2 separate regions of the Homo sapiens genome follow, and region 2 is linked to region 1. The links come from fine-mapping of genetic effects on gene expression. A gene starts in region 1. The other region holds a variant in brackets. All regions are shown on one strand. Distances are between the middles of the regions.

The links. PIP is the estimated chance that this variant, and not a neighbour inherited with it, causes the effect.
Region 2: its variant is the best candidate, but not a certain one, in a credible set for the expression of CNTN1 in aorta (GTEx, PIP 0.71).

What each region holds. Positions count from the first base shown.
Region 1 is chr12:40,690,618-40,695,013 of GRCh38, forward strand. CNTN1 (contactin 1) reads left to right here and starts at 1,822. Exons shown (of 24, transcript NM_001843.4): 1 at 1,822-1,975.
Region 2 is chr12:40,623,476-40,627,871 of GRCh38, forward strand. No RefSeq gene overlaps it. Among named protein-coding and RNA genes, the nearest start is that of CNTN1, 67 kb to the right of the region's middle. The variant G/A (reference allele first, on the strand shown) is at 2,560.

The DNA.
Region 1 (4,396 bases):
CACAGGGGTTCTGAAATTTTGCCACGGCATATTTAGTCATTTCCATTCAGTGTTAAGATGGTTGTCACCACACAAATAATATCTATTTGTTCACTGTAAATTTTCTCCAGGGTCCCTTCCCACCTTCAAATGCATTATTTTATTTTATTTTATTATTTTATTTTATTTTATTTTATTTTATTTTATTTTATTTTATTTTATTTTATTTTATTTTATTTTATTTTTTGAGGCGGAGTCTCGCTCTGTCGCCCAGGCTGGAGTGCGGTGGCGCAATCTCCGCTCACTGCAAACTCCGCCTCCTGGGTTCACGCCATTCTCCTGCCTCAGCTTTCTGAGTAGCTGGGACTGCAGGCGCCCAACACCATGCCCGGCTAATTTTTTGTATTTTTTGTATTTTTTTTTTTTTTTTTTTTTTTGAGTAGAGACGAGGTTTCACCGTGTTAGCCAGGATGGTCTCGATCTCCTGACCTTGTGATCCGCCTGCCTCGCCTGCCAAAGTGCTGGGATTACAGGCATGAGCCACCTCGCCCGGCCCCCACCTTCAAATGCATTAATCGGATTCCTTCAGTATTATGAAGAAAACATTATGAAGAGCCTTACCTGATGATAGTAATAACAACCGTAACCACTAAGTAGAGTCTATATTTATTAATAGCAATGTCATCTTCTCTAACAGTTGTCCAGTGTCCCAAGCCTGTCATAAGCTCTTTGAAGCTCTGTGAGAATGAGAGTTGTGTCTTATGCTCAGCACTTAAGATGGCTACTTAATTCAGATAGAAGAAGAATGTGGCTATTTGCAGGCAGAAGGCAACTTGATTCCTCACATGGTACTATATACTAAGACACCCTACACTCCCAGTTTTACACGTGGTAGTTCTAGCACGTTCCTTCATTTAAGGAGTCTCTTGAATTCCAAAATTTCCAGATTCCACCTGAATAAATGGCAGAGATGGCAACTGGACACAAAGTTATTTTACCCTGTTCCCTTCACATAAAAGGCAGGCTTGGGATCACTTAGGTTTGGGGGCATAAACATCCTCTCAGTGTCTGAGTACTAAAGAAATGATAAACTACTATCAATAGAAAAGTAACAGATCACTTAATTATCAATCAGTCTAATGGTGATTATTTTAAGACTTTTGCCACAAACTGAACTGCCCCAAAGCAAATCTCTCATGCAGTTTGGCCTTAATTTCTTTTACCCTTTTTTTTTTTTTGAGAGGTTATTATGCAGTGCTTTCCCGTTTAAAACACTGTTTCTACCAGGGAATATTAGGGGGTCTTCTGCATTACAGACTAAGCAATTCCGTCTTTTCTCAAGAAAAACTGCCATGTTACATCTGGACAAAAATGGAAACTTTAAAAAAAAACCTCACATCGTTTTATTTTCCTTTCTGTGTGTGTATTTTTTCCCACATAAGTATCTTATTATTTCCTAATCGAAGCTCATTCTTCTCTATGAGGCGCTGGCTTGGTATTTTCGCCTGACAAATCTCCCGGAGCAGATGGTCCCTTCAGGGAAGCTTCAGGAAAGTGCTGGGTGTCTAGTTATGCCTGGACCCTCCCTCCCTCTTGGGGCCCCAAATGACAAGTCATCAAACCAGTTTCTCTCCAGCAAGGGTCCTTGATCCGGTAGCAGCAGGTTTGGGTTTCAGGCACTGCAGAGACCCTTTGCAGTTGGGTTTAGCAGCTACCCAAGTCTGCAGCCTGCGCTGGTCCTGGGGGTGAGAGTGATATCCCTGTTGTCCAATCAGAGAAGCGGGTTTCCCTGTGGTCCCCGCCCCACTTTCCCTGCTGCCCCAATAACCGCCCTAAAAGGCCGGGCTTCTGCTGTCAAGTAGCCAGGGTGGGCTCCGCCGAGGCGAGGAGGGGCGCCGGTGGGGAGATGCGCTCCCAGGTGTTTGCAGCGGAAGTGGGAAACCTGTAGGGTATGGTCCAGCTGTGCCGCACCGAGGCGAGCAGGAGCAGGGAACAGGTAGGAAGCTGGACTTTTCCTTCTTTGCAGATAAAATAAAGAATGCGCATTTCCATGCTGTTGCTTCCCTTCCCCCAGCCCCGCCCAGCCCTCGTCACCCCCAAATCTCCTGTGGTCCCTGCAGCTCTCGCCGTGCGGCGCGGGAAGGACTGGGGCGGAGGTGGCTGGGGTGCGGGGAAGCAGGGGTGCGGGATGCCGGAGCCCTGGGGTGCCGGGCAAGGCAGGACGGCAGTGCCCTAGAAGAGGGCTCCGAGCTCGGGGTCTGTGTCTCGTCAACTTTCCTTTCGGAGGCTGCCGCCGCCAGCGCCGGGAACTCGCCCCAGGGATGCCATATCGCCTCGGCAGGGGAGGGGTGGGGAAGCAGAGAGGTCGGCAGCCCGGGGCCTGCAGGTCTTTTTCTCCCGACGCCGGCCCGCACCTGCTCATCTTTCCCATCCCACCTGGGCGCCTGGCTAGCGCATCCCGGAAAACCTGGGAGCGGTTGCGGAGAGGGGAGGAAGCGACTTGTTTGTCCCCTGACCCCTCTGTTAAGATCTAGCTCCCTTCAGGAGATGGGGGTGGGGAAGAATCCCTGCAACTCGAAGGGCACGTTCCGATTAATTACGTCTCCGTTGAGAAGGCACCGGCCCTTCTCCACGATCTGCGGCAGGTGGGAGGGAGAGACCGCGGAGCCACGGCCCCTTCCCTCCTAGCCTGGCGCTGTCTACGGGAACCACCTTCACACCTAGTTTCTGAAAGGTGGATTTGGCTTCAGGGATTTCCAGGGAGTCAAGTGATTGTGCCCGGATGGGCTCCGAGCGGCTGCGAGGCTGCCTCCCTAGGTGACCGCATCTGGGTAGTAGGTGTTGGCCCAGTGCCGGTTCCTGCAGGAGTCAGATTGCTGGGAGCAGTAGGCAGAAGAATTGCAGAGAGATCCGACGCTGCATCACCCTCTGGGACTGATGACACCCTGCTTTGAAAATTCCTGAAAAATTGGGATGATGGGAAAGAGGGAAAGCGGATAGCTGCGACCTTTCCTTATTTATTTATTTATTTTCATGCCAAACCGGGCATGGGTATTCGTACGTGTGCTTGTGTGTGCACATCTCCAAGGTGGAGCTATATATAGCTCCTGCATACCCAGCCCGGCTTCCCTGCTGCTGAGCCGGCTGCCTTGGCCTTCTCAAGCAATCTGGAAGCACTGAGTGGGCGGGGCAAAAGGGAATCCAATTCTCCATTGGGGGAAAAGCCGGAGAAGAAGCATTCAGACTGCTGAAACCCTGCGTGAAATAATGTTTTTGTAACTCACGTAAAGATCAATATTTCATATTTCATGTTTTCAATATGTCATATTTCATGTTTTCAATATTTCAGTATTTTGCAAACATTCTTAGAGTGCCAATATAATCTTCATCCATTTCGCCGCATTTTTCGGTTTCTAAGTGTACATATGAACCTTACCAGCCCGAAGTGTAACGCAAATCAAATTAATACATGCCGTATCTGGGATATTTTATTAGACTCGGCATAATGGTTTGGTTATTTGGTAGTAAATTTATTTCAGTGGTAACTTATGGCTAACAGCATTTGGGGATCTGGGAATGGATCCACCCACTTTCCAGGACTAAGGAACTGCTAGAACCCTTGCGGGGGTAGATGTGAGGTATTTCTTTGTACAGATTTTACATGTGGACCTGATATTTAAATTTGTACTGCTTTTTCATATCACATCTATTTGTACTATGTGAACTTTCTTTTATAGATTGATGTATGTGCATTTATCTTTGCCATTCCCTGAAATTACTTATTCCTGATGACAACCTTTCCATTTTCACAGATGAAGAAACTAAGATTCAGAAGACACAAGTGATTGGTTGAAAGTCTTCTGAAAACTTTAATATTCCAACAACCTGCCGTGTAATTATACTGCATAGCAGTTTCCCCTCAAATAGAATACTTTTTAGCTTCCCAGGATTTTTGGTCCTGGCAACAAAATGTGGTTAATGTTGATACCAGGAACAATATAAACCAAGTTTATTCGGTTCTAGTCTGACATGTATCCCTACAAAATTTAATTCTGTGTTTTAAGAACAAAATTCTAACTTGCCAAGTCATTTTGAAGATAAATTATTTAATCTACCAAGTTACCATCATAGGCAGTGCGAGCTGGCTTTTAATTTTGCTCTGCAACTTCCTGATGATCTGATTTGGAGCAAGATAATTAAACTCTGAGAATCTGTTTTCTTGTCTTCAAAAGGAATTTTATAGCATTGAAATTTCAGGTTGCTATGAGGGCCATAAAAAGCATGCATGTTTCTATCATGGGGATGGGCGCATAGTGGGTCATTAATAAACAGGGCTACTGGTAATAATAACAATACATAGGTATGTATCAACTAAATGCATTTTAAAATTCATGGTTCTAACAAAACGATCACTCCT
Region 2 (4,396 bases), 67 kb before region 1:
AACTCCTTCTGGAGGCTTTTCTGCCTTTCATTCTCTTTCACACAGAAAGACCCTCTTCTTTGAGTTTCTATATGTCACCTCATGCAATCATTCATCCAGTAAATAACTATTAGATAATTCACCATGCATTATATCTAATGTGCTGAGTAAATAACAAGCACATCACTGCTATCATAGACTATAGAAGGATAAGGAGAAATTAAATGAAGAGTTATTGTATGTTGAATGCTATAAAGATCTATAGGACATATATCTTTTACATGTGATAGAGGATTTCCTGAATGCTAAAACAGATCTAAAGAATGAATAGAAGCCATCTAGACAAAGAGAGGGGAGGCAGAAATTCTAGGTAGAAAAAAAAAGAACATGTGAAAAACCACTCAGAAGATGGTATCTATTAATTCAAGGAATCACTAGTTCAGTGTGGTGGAGCAGAGAGAGTAAGGGGAAGGACACTCAAATGAGGGTGGAGAGTTAGGAAGGGGAGTGGATAGTTCAGACTCTTTAAAGCCTTATTGAGGATGCTGGACTCTACCCAACAGTAGGGAAAAGTCAGCAGCAGCTTTTAAGAAGAGTGATAAAATAATCAGATGTGGATTTGATCCATTACTGTAACCCTAAAATAGAGAATGGATTGGAGAAGAGCACAAGTAGGTTTGAGGAAGTGTAGGGAGGTTATCGGAATAGTCTCAGCAAGTGCTTTTGATAGATTGGACTAGGGCTGTAACCATGGGGATGGAGAGAAGTAGATTGATTTGAATGTTATTAAAGAGGCAACATTGCTGGACTTGGTGATTGGTTGTGGGGAATAAGGGAGAAGAAGGAATCAAGTGGGCTCTAAGGTTTCTAGATTGAGCCACCGTATATAGATGATTGTGCTATTTCCAGGGGTGATTTGATTTTTATATTACTGATTAATATTTAGAGTTACATGGCTCCTTTGTTTAATGTGCTCAAGACGTATATAATAAGAATAAATGTCATGTTATTTCAAAACTAGGATATCAAACTTATAAAATTCATGTTTAAAATAATTTCTGGAATTCTAAAGAAATACAAGTTGTAAAAAAAAAAAATGTCGGCCGGGCGCGGTGGCTCACGCCTGTAATCCCAGCACTTTGGGAGGCCGAGGCGGGCAGATCACAAGGTCAGGAGATCGAGACCATCCTGGCGAACACGGTGAAAGCCCGTCTCTACTCAAAAAAAAAAAAACAAAAAAAACAAAAAACTTAGCCAGGCTTGGTGGTGGGCGCCTGTAGTTCCATCTACTCAGGAGGCTGAGGCAGGAGAATGGCGTGAACCTGGGAGGTGGAGCTTGCAGTGAGCCGAGATTGCGCCACTGCACTCCAGCCTGGGTGACAGAGCAAGACTCTGTCAAAAAAAAAAAAAAAAAAGTCATAATAATGAAGAGACATATCAGACTAGGACACCTGCAGTAATAATTACTCCTACTGCTATCAAATTCTGCCTATGTTTGCTGCTTAAAGGAAGCTTTTGCCCTTTCCTCTCTGTTTTCTGATCCTAGTAAGATTCACATCCTCCTGCATTTTACATATGTAATGCTTTAGAAATTAAAAATAGAATCTGCAAGCTGCAGAAATTCTAATTGAACATTTTAATAACTTCTTTTCTTTGGATTAATCAACTTTCCAAAGCATGAGCTATTTTTAGCATCAGTTACACTTCTACCTTTGTGCCCAATTCTAATTCTCTTCACATCACAGAGGATCTCTTTACAGCACTCTCTTTGAAATCAATCAGCGCTTTCAGGAGTTATGCAGTGGAGGATGAGAATTGGGTCATGGCGGACATTCTCCCTCACATAAGGCTGAATTCTTTCACTTCCAGGTGCAAAGACAGAGTTAGATAATTACCAGTTAAAGAGCAAAAAGAAGACCATTAGAGTAAACCCTTCCTTACCCCCCACCCCGCCAAAAAAAACAAAAAAAAAACACACAAAAAAAACAAAAACTTACCTTGGTAATGCTATTTCAGATTGGTCACGTTGTTGTTCTGTTTCCAGAATTTTAACTTCACCAAGAAACAAATTACACTGAATAAATTTGCTATTAAAATTCCTGGTCTGCAAAATGGGAAGCAATATCTAATGCAACCTCCTCATACCCAACTTAACACTTAGATTCCTGGGAAGATCCTGAAAAGACCAGGAGGCAATCTACTGCCTGACAGATAATCTACTTGCAGGAACTTTAGACATTTCTATTAATTGTATGTTTGATGGAATTTGGAGTAAGGTAACAATAGTGATTTGCCCTCCCCCTTCCTTTTTAAGAGGAAGAGAGTCAACACACTACCTGAAAGAAGGTTGTGAGATCTTTCATCCTTCCCCCACTGCCAATCTGTTCATTAGAGTTTCAGGTTCTATATTAGTCCATTTGTGTTGCTATAAAGGAATACCTGAGACTGGGTAATTTATAGGGGAAAAAGTTATTCGGCTCATGATTCTGATTGGCTGGAAGAGTAGTCATCTGGTGAGGGCCTCAGGCTGCTTCCACTCATGGTGGAAGGGGAAGGGGGTCTGGCAGATGTGGAAATCAC[G/A]GAGATGCCAGGATCTTCTTAACAACCAGATATCCTGGGAACTGAAAGAGTGGGAACTCACTCACTTCCCCATCCAGGGAGGGTATTTATCTCTTCACAACGGATCCACCCCCATGACCCAAACACCTCCCATTAGGCCCCACCTCCAACATTGGGGATCAAATTTCAACACAAGATTTGGAGGAGACAAACATCCAAACTATAATGCATATCGACCAGAAAAGAGGAAAATCATGTCTTTTCTTCATTCATATTGATTTTGAAGTTGTCAGAAGGCTACTCTTCTAGCCTTTCTCCCAACTCCCATTATTCAAATAAAGTGAGGTAGATGGGATCAGGGTAGACCAGAGCAATAAATAATTCAGGGGAAAGGCTAGGCATGGTGGCTCACACCTGTAATCTGAGCATTTTGGGAGGCTCACGTGGGCAAATCCCTTGAGCTCAGGAGTTCGAGAACAGCCTGGGCAATATGGTGAAACCCCGTCTCTACAAAAAATTTGCTGGGCGTGATAGAACATGCCTGTAGTCCCCCGCTACTTAGGAGGCTGAGTGGGAAGCTCATCTGAGCTTGAGAGGCGGAGGTTGCAGTAAGCCTAGATTGCAGCATTGCACTCCAACCTGGGTGGCAGAGTGAGACCCTGTCTCAAAAAAGAAAAAAAAATTAAGGGGAAATTTTAAGTGCATATACTTCGTATTTCATATGTTCATCTTTTTAGGAAACCAGGTAGGATATGCAGAATATTTATCATCCCATAAAAAGAGTCCATGAGAGGAATATTTGGAGACAGTAATAAAACTTAGATCTTAACTAGTTTTTCACACAGATACAATTTCTTATTTATCCACTACCCCTCTACCTATTGAAGCCACTGAGGTCCTTAATGCCTTAGCCTTTTAGGCTGGGCATGGTGGCTCACGACTGTAATCCTAGTACTTTGGGAGGCCGAGGCGGGCAGATCACCTGAGGTCAGGAGTTTGAGACCAGCCTGGTCAACGTGGTGAAATCCCGTCTCTACCAAAAATAAAAAAATTAGCCGGGCGTGGTGGCGAAAGCCTGTCATCCCAGCTACTTGGGAGGCTGAGGCAGGAGAATCGCTTGAACCTGGGAGGCAGAGGTTGCAGTGAGCCGGGATAGTGCCACTGCACTCCAGCTGGGGCAACTCTGTCTAAAAAAAAAAAAAAAAAAAAAAAAAAGCCTTTCAATTGCCTCTGAAAAGAGAGGGCACTACAATCCCAGATGAAAGAATTCTGAATGAATTCTTACGAAAAAACATACCAGAAAGAATGCCTTCCACTACAAGAGAAAGAAAAATTATTTTGATTTTCCAAAGTAAATAAATTCCTATAAGGATAGAAGTTTTGACTATCCTGAGATAAAGCTCGAAGCAAGAAAATGTAATGTTGGACTGGAAAGTCAGTAGAGGAAGAGTCCATTTCTGACTCTCCTCACTACACACATCTTCTCCTTTGGTAGCACAGAAAAGAGATAATAAACCTCCTTTATGGTTTAGGGGAAAGGGTTTAAAGATTGGAAGAGGAGAGTAAGAATGTTCCCATGTGGACAGAGAGTGGGATCCTGCCTTTGTCCCTCCCAAGGTCAAAATAGAGGTTGTGTTTATTCTATATCTGCAAATAAATTTGAGAATTGAAGAGCAGGAGTGCCCTACTTCTTATCTGGATTGTTGAGAAGGGGAACTTAGGCAGAACATTGCAATCATAATGCAGGAAACATGCATGCAAGGGCAGTTAGAGAGAGAGACAGAGACTCTCACCCCTATCCGTTACCATTGTAAGGTATCAGCTGCCAGCGGTGAATCCATATGGGTCTTCAGCAATC